Regions from separate parts of the Homo sapiens genome. Here regions 2 and 3 are each linked to region 1. The links come from fine-mapping of genetic effects on gene expression. A gene starts in region 1. Each other region holds a variant in brackets. All regions are shown on one strand. Distances are between the middles of the regions.

What was found. PIP is the estimated chance that this variant, and not a neighbour inherited with it, causes the effect.
Region 2: its variant is the best candidate, but not a certain one, in a credible set for the expression of CDH10 in lung (TOPMed, PIP 0.55).
Region 3: its variant is the best candidate, but not a certain one, in a credible set for the expression of CDH10 in atrial appendage (GTEx, PIP 0.57).

What each region holds. Positions count from the first base shown.
Region 1 is chr5:24,643,604-24,646,376 of GRCh38, reverse strand. CDH10 (cadherin 10) reads left to right here and starts at 1,399. Exons shown (of 12, transcript NM_006727.5): 1 at 1,399-1,783. LOC124901174 (a long non-coding RNA gene) reads right to left here and starts at 1,668. Exons shown (of 2, transcript XR_007059125.1): 1 at 1,305-1,668; 2 at 863-1,066. RefSeq lists an enhancer at 1,107-1,702.
Region 2 is chr5:24,241,240-24,244,012 of GRCh38, reverse strand. No RefSeq gene overlaps it. Among named protein-coding and RNA genes, the nearest start is that of LINC02899, 290 kb to the right of the region's middle. The variant G/A (reference allele first, on the strand shown) is at 1,442.
Region 3 is chr5:24,721,253-24,724,025 of GRCh38, reverse strand. No RefSeq gene overlaps it. Among named protein-coding and RNA genes, the nearest start is that of CDH10, 78 kb to the right of the region's middle. The variant T/A (reference allele first, on the strand shown) is at 1,108.

The DNA.
Region 1 (2,773 bases):
AATGATACGGTGATAATTCAGAATTCTAGCTCTATTATTATCAAACTTTAGAGGGGCCATAAAATTTTCCTGATCTTAATGCCATCGTCTGTAAAATTAAGAGTTTCAAAAGTCCATTTCTGCTCTAAATGTCATTTAGCTGTTCAGCTCAGTGGAAATGTTTGGTGTTTTCAAATATAAAACTAATTGGTAAAATTCATCATATAATAACACTGTGATACATTAAAACCTTTTTGGAATCTAATTTTGAATCTCCCTCTCACTTCTTTTTTGCCCCTCAGATTGAGTTTCTTCCTTTTTCATTGTGCTGATTATGTAAGGGGCCTGTTGACTGTTAGAATGATCAAACAGGTACAGAGGAGGCAGTATGGCAACCGGAAACAATACTAAACTGGAAGTAGGAGTGTGGTATTACAGCTTTGACCCCGCCTCCAGTTAGTCCTGTGACAATTTAACATTCTGAGCATTTTTATCTGCTAAAGAAATAATAATAATAACAGCCCAAAATGATCTTCGTAATTTCTCCTCTAGCTTTAAAACTATAATTGACATATATGTATTTATATGCATATATGTATGTATATGTGTATATAATTTATTTATGGATGGCACTTTAAAAGGAATCTACCTGTAGCCGGAAAAATGCAAAGATGTTAATTACTTTGTGGAGCTATACTGACATCCTTTGGTAAGGTTTGGTTGATTGCAATTTGATGTGGAGATTGATAAATAGCGAGACAGTTAGATGTTTAAGTAGATAGAACAATCCAAATGTATTTACATCTGTCCACACACTCATTTGGGTATGAAACCCGTATTTATGAGAAAAAACAACGTTAAAAAGAAAAAAAAGGAGACTGTGTCAAGTTCAAAGTCTAAATATTTTAATAACACTAATTACATATTTACATTTTTAATAAAATATTTTATCTATAAAGTATTAAAATGCAAAGATTAGGCAGAGAAGACTGGCTCGCGGACATTCCAAAATGATGAGCGAGGTATGCACTCCTGTGACAATAAGCAACAAGAGAAGGGATTTGGAAAATCAAGCCGAGAAAGTTCCCTGAAAGCAAAAAATAAACATTTAAAATCACAACGAAAAATCACTCTGGTAACATATCAAATCTGGTTGCAATTTGACTTGGCGCTCTGATAATACTTGGATTTCGGTAGTCTGGTGTAAGGACGGTGCAGGAATATATATTCCAGAAGAACTATCTTTTTTTAAAAAAAATTGCAAGAAGCAGTCCTGTTCCTGAGATTGTATTACGGACACAGGCGGATTAGATTGGGCTGATTACCTTAGCCTTGAAACAGAGAGTCTTTCTGCCCTGCGGGGGAGGGGACGCCTTTCAAGCAAAGCCCTCCTCTCGGATGCGCCCTCCCCTCGCATTCACTTGCAAATCGCTGTGTGCTCGCAGAAGCCAGCACTTCCACAGTCTCTAACCTTCCCATGGCGAGTGCTGCAGCTCTATCAGCAGAACCTTTCTCTCCGTGTGAGGAAGAGCTTTTTTCCCCCCTTTCCTTTTTTTTTTTTTTCCTTTCCCCTTAATCAGAAGCACTGAATGAAAGCCAATCAGAGAGAGCTCGCCCCCGTTTTCTTCGGTTCCCTGCTGTCCAGAGTTAAAAGTGATGCTGAGAAAGAGCTTGAGTTAGATTGAAGTAGAATCAGTGATAGAAAATAACAGCCGAAAACAAACAAAAAGGGGACATAGTGACAATTTCTCCTGGGTTATTTTGGCTGGAACCAACTTCCATTATCCAGAAGCTGATAAAAAAGGTAGGAAGACTTCACCTCTTTCTTTTAACTCCGTTAAGGTATTATATATTCCTCCACTTGAGGGGTGGGGGGGGAGAGGGAGGAGATAAATGTTTGTTTTTAAGTTGTGTTTAGCAATTATTTCAAAATAATTATCTTTAATACTTAAATAAGCATACAACTCTATATATTTAATTCTAGAAACAACTGCTTCGAATATCTATATAGGCAATGTAAAGCTGGATAAATTATATATTATGCTCAACAGTGGGTCATGATATTAGAGTTTGTGAATTCATTCACTTGGAACAAATGCTAAAAAATATGTTATGAAGTGAATTTGTCATGCCCAGACTTGTTCATTTTTATTTTAAAAATCAGTTCAAGAGATAACATTGTTACTGTGAACTCTAACATCATCTAACATTACTTTGCATTCCATATGAATGGATTCACTCTGCACTTATTCGTAGTCATAGTTCATTGTACGTTCAATATAAACAGAAATGACAGGCAGAAGACAGATTCCTTGAAACTGTCAATGGTCACTAAGCATCTACATAAATACAATAGATTGACATTCATCAGAAATAGAATAGGCAGAATTCTTATTTTCAATTTTATATCTGAGTCAGAAGTATTGGGGGGAGAGAGGTAAAGAGAGGGAGAGTAAATGCATGTAGTCAGCAGTTGCAGCATTTATTGTTTCTGCTGCAATAAAATCCATATTTTATGTGTTGTTAAATTAATGCAGCATATTGCAAGTATAAATGCATGTCCCCAACAAGTAACTATTGATAGCACTGTAACTATGGGCAAAAGCAGTAGTCTGAAATTGTTTTTATGCCACTAAAATAAAAACCTACTGTCTCCTTATTATGAAAAAAGGGGAGTCTACAGGTACAAAGACAAATATTGTTTTAAAAATGACCTATCATCTTTTGCTTTGAAAAAACAGATGTTTCCTATAATTGTGGTCCTTCATTCCTTCATTCCAGTGAAAGCTTCTAT
Region 2 (2,773 bases), 400 kb after region 1:
AGATTTCGGAGATATAGACCAGGCAATTCCTATATAAAATGCTGTGAATAATTGTTTATACTAAAATTTAAAAGTACAAGGTAAGAGATTAATACAGAGGCATGAACAGGATATGGTCCAGATTTAGTTGGTTTGGAGGTATTTAGTTTGTGGGAAGGGGAAGAGCAACAAGCATTTTGGCCAGAGGTCTTGTTTTGACCAAAATAGAACCTTCTTGGGAGTTTTTGAGCAAAAAGAAAAAAAAAGCAAAAAAAAAAAAAAAAAAAAAATATATATATATATATATTATATATATATATATATATATATATATCACTAGAAGGAATCACAGTAGCTGCTGAGTACAGTATAATTTGCCAGAGTATGTAGATCACTTTAAAAGGCACAGAAATAATTCACGGGAGCAATCATGTCATTCTGAACTAAAGAGGTACTGATGGAGTTACTGAGAAATTGAACATTTCTGAATATGCATTGGATTTGCTGATTATTTGGGTGTGGGATGTGAGGGAAAGACAAGTGTCAAGCATAACACCATGCTTATTTGGCCTAACAGAGAGGAAAAAATAGAGCTCTAAAACAATGAGTTTGGGTAGACTTAGTAATAAACAAATTGAGTGGTGATAAGATAGTTTCTTTGATAAGTTGACTGAACTAGGCTACTATCACCAGTTATTCAAGTAAACACTAATTAGATGTGATGTGATTGACGTCCACAATCAGTTGACTTTAAGGAAGGGAAAATATCCTAGATAAACTGGGTGAGCCTGAATCTATTATTTGTAAGGTCTTAAAAAAGCAGAACTAAATCTTTCCTGAGTTCAAAGAAATTCTATCTGTGGACAACCACTTCAGCTCAGGCTCTGGAATTCCAACCTACTTTTCCAGCTTTCTCTGATATTTGGAAATTAACTAGCCAGTCCCCAAAATCATGAGAGCCAGTACCTTCAATATATCTGTAATTCATATATTTTTATTTCTTCTTCTCCTGTTGAATTCTGACTAACGAAACTGGGTAGTACTTTTTTTTGTTTTCTTGAGCTATCTGTGAATTTCACAAAGGGAGATGTCAGACAAATATATGAAAACAGAATCGGAATGCCATAGGAGATCTGTGTATTAGAGAATTACATGTTGGAGTTATTGGCTTATAGATCGCTGGGGCAGACAAAAAAAGATCCCCCAGAAGATATTCACATGAAATCCCTGGAAACTGAATGTTACCTTACTTGGAAAAAGGGTCCTTGCAGATGTAATTAAGTTTAGAATCTTGAGATAAAGAGATGATCACCATAGGTTATTGTCATGGTCTGAATATTTGTGTCTCCTCAAAATTTATATGTTAAAACTTAACCCACAAGGTAGTGGTATTAAGAGGTGGGTCCCTTGGGCAGTTATTAGATTAGATGGCAGAACCCATTTAATCCAAAATGGGATTAGT[G/A]CTTTTATCAAAGAGGCTAGAGGAAACTGGTTTGCCCCTTCTACCATGTGAGGACACACTGAGAAGTTTCTGGTCTTTGACCCAGAAGAAGGCCCTCATCAAAACTTGACCATTCTGGCACCCTGATCTTGGACTTCCCAGTCTCCAGAATTGTGAAAAATACATTTCTGTTGTTTATAAGCCACCTAGTTTATGGCATTTTGCTGTAGCAGCTCAAGTGGATTATTACAATTATTGAGGTAATCCCAAAATTCAATGACAATTGTTCTTCTAAGAGACACACAGAAGAAAACAGACACACAAAGAAAGAGATGATGGGACTAGGCGATGTGACTACAGAGTCAGGGAGTTGCAGTCATGTAGCCCAAGGCCACAAGTTGAGGAATGAAGACAGTTGGCAGAAGCTAGAAGAGACAAGAAATGGATTCTCCTTTCGGGTATGCAGATGGCGTGGAGCCCTCCCAACTCCCGCCTCAGCCTTCAAATTTATGAAAAAGGGTTCCAGAACTATAAGAAAACACATTTCTATTGCTTTAAGCTGCTCATTTTTGTGGTAATTTGTTAAAGCACTCTCAGAAAGGTAATACAATCATATTTAAAGCCACAGGACTGAAGAAGACAAATTTGGAGGTGGGTACAGACAGAAACAAGAGTTCTAAGAAGTGACTCCTAGGGCACTCCAAAATTAAGAAATTGGAAAAATGAAGCAAATCTCATGAAGGTGTGTGAGAGGGACTGTCCAAAACAGTATAAGAACCAAAGAGATTACTATTTTAGCATCCTGGAAAAATACGCATCCTAAGGTAAATCAGTGGTCAGTGTGTCAAGTTCAGGTAGGCTAAAAGAGATGAATACTGCAAATTGACATTTATATATTTGGTATTGTCATCAATAACCTCTATAATACAAGTTTTAATCTTGTGTGACAGTTAACGGCTAATTTCTATACTCAACAGAGAATTGCAGGAATGAAAAGAAATACATTGAGTAAAGATATCTTTTTTTTTTGAGATGGAGTCTCGCTCTGTTGCCCATGCTGGAGTGCAGTGGCACGATCTCGGCTCACTGCAACCTCCGCCTCCCAGGTTCAAGCCATTCTCCTGCCTGAGCCTCCTGAGTAGCTGGGACTACAGGCTTGTGCCACCATACCTGACTAATTTTTTGTATTTTTAGTAGAGACAGGGTTTCACCGTGTTAGACAAGATGGTCTGGATCTCCTGACCTCGTGATCTGCCCACCTCAGCCTCCCAAAGCGCTGGGATTACAGGCATGAGCCGCCACGCCCAGGCCAAAGATATCTCTTTGTGGCATTTTTGCTTTAAAGAGAAGCTG
Region 3 (2,773 bases), 78 kb before region 1:
TGAGTTGAAGGCATAAAGAAACATTATTCCATAATAATTTCTAGTGCCAGACTAGGCCTTAGAGTGTTATCTTACAAATAATAGGTCATTACTGGATGTTTTCTAATGGGGGCACGACATACTTATACACTTTTAAAAGTCACTACAACTATAATGTGAGGAATACCTTACGGACAAACTAGCTTAGATGAAAAGGCAACTTGGGTGAAAAGAAAATTGCAATCAAGGAAAATTCATATGTAAAGCCATCGAGAACTACGGTAGTGTTAGTAGAGATGGAGAGAAGTAGATTAAAATAGGGATATTACAATGAAAGACATAATATGTTTAATTTGTATTGTATGTAAAATATGACACATCTGTTTTATTTATACTTGTTGTTATTTCATTTATAGTTTTTATAGGCATGGAGTCTCACTATGCTGCCAAGGCTAGTCTGGAACACCTGGCCTCAAGCCATCCTCCTGCCTCAGCTTCCTAATGTGCTGGGATCACAGACATGAGCCACCATGCCCAGCTATATACTTTAAATTTGGAAAAATCTAACAGTAAAGCAAATGGCCAGGAAATGTCTTTGGATACCTTATAGCATTGTCAGATTTTTAAGGCCAAATATTTAAAATTAAAACACACACAAGGAATCCACTTAATCTGAAGGACCATTTACAGTTGTACTCCTATTTCCATTATTAGTGTGAGGTGAAACAAATACTTAAACTTGATATTAACAAAATCTAATTGAAGCTCAAATTCCACTTCTAGCAAAGATGGAGTAATTGATGCTAGCCTTGCTCAGAATAATTAAAGAAAGTGTTTTTTAGATAATTGATAAGAGGAATGTGAACTTTGACAGTAAAGAAATATTCAAGTTGAAGTTCATGTCTCCTCCATATTTCTGCTTAGGAGCACTTTCCAGAGTAGTCATAGGGAAGAAGGGGCAAAGCAGAGTATAGTGTTCTTGCTGATGTGAAGAGGCACAGCTCAGAGCTCAGAACAACGAAATGGTAGAAATTTTTAAGGCAAACGCTGAAGAGGAAAGAGAGGCTGAAGATTGACAGAGGTGGACACTGTGTTTACATGAACATTTCTATAATTTTTGCCTAACAC[T/A]AATATGTGGTTTTATGGGGTGAAATCTTAGGCTAACACAGAGGGAATATAATGGGGTGGCAAGCTCAGTAGAGATACCAAAGGGCAAAGGGTGCTGGGGAAATGTGAATCCTGGCCAAGAAGAAATTCACTCACACCTCAGTAAAACCATCCCTTAGAAATAAACACAACTCTCTGTACAGTAAAGGCCAGATCCTCAGGATAAGGGCAAAACAGGAGGAGCATTTTTAAAGTAATTATGAAAGCAAGCTTGGCAGGACAAAATAACTCACCAGTAATTTAAGTCTTTGTCAAAACAATCCAGAGACCTTCCAGAATGACATCAAGAATGGCTGTAATAGATATAATTGTTATAAAATGTATAAGACATATGAATGAGTAGAAAATAGTGATAATTAATGTTTTATTTTTTAAGTATTTATTTATTTATTTTTAATTATACTGTAAGTTCTGGGGTACATGTGCAGAACAGGTAGGTTTGTTACATAGGTAGACACGTGCCATGGTGGTTGGCTGCACCCATCAACCTGTCATCTACATTAGGTATTTCTCCTAGTGCTATCCCTCCCATAGTCCCCTACACCCAGACAGGCCCCGGTGTGTGATGTTCCCCTGCCTGTGTCCATGTGTCCTCATTTACAAAAGCCAAAATAGACATAATGGGATCTGATTAAACTAAAGAGCTTCTGTGCAGCAAAAGAAACTATCATCAGAGTGAACAGGCAGCACAAACACAGAATAGGAGAAAATTTGTGCAATCTATCCATCTGACAAAGCGCTGATATCCAGAATCTACAAAACTTAAACAAATTTATAAGAAAAAAACAACCCCATCAAAAAGTGGCAGAAAGATATAAACAGACACTTCTCAAAAGAAGACATTTATGCAGCCAACAAACATATGAAAAAAAGCTCATCATCACTGGTCATTAGAGAAATGCAAATCAAAACCACAATGGGATACCTATCTCACGCCAGTTAGAATGGCGATCATTAAAAAGTCAGGAAACAACAGATGCTGGAGATGATGTGGAGAAATTGAAACACTTTTACACTGTTGGTGGGAGTGTAAATTAGTTCAACCATTGTGGAAGACAGTGTGGTGATTCCTCAAGGATCTAGAACTAGAAATATCATTTGACCCAGCAATCCCATTACTGGGTATATACCCAAAGGATTATAAATCATTCTACTATCAAGACACATGCACAAGTATGTTTATTGCGGCACTGTTCACAATAGCAAAGACTTGGAACCAACCCAAATGCTCATCAGTAATAGACTGGATGAAGAAAATGTTACACATATACACCATGGAATACTATGCAGCCATAAAAAAGGTTGAGTTCATGTTCTTTGCAGGGACATGGATGACACTGGAAACCATCATTCTCAGCAAACTAACACAAGAACAGAAAACCAAACACCGCATATTCTCATTGATAATTAATTTTTTAAAAACTGACTGAGATAATGTAGATGTTGGAATTGGCAAAGACTTTAGAAAACTATTGTGACTATGTTCGATTATATGAACAAAATGATTGAGATGATGATTAAAGAGAAAGGTAGTCTGGGCAAAGCAGTAGAATCATCTATATGAACGAATGAATGAAATTTCAAAATTAAAGATTAAAAGGTAGAACATGAAAAAATTACTAGATTA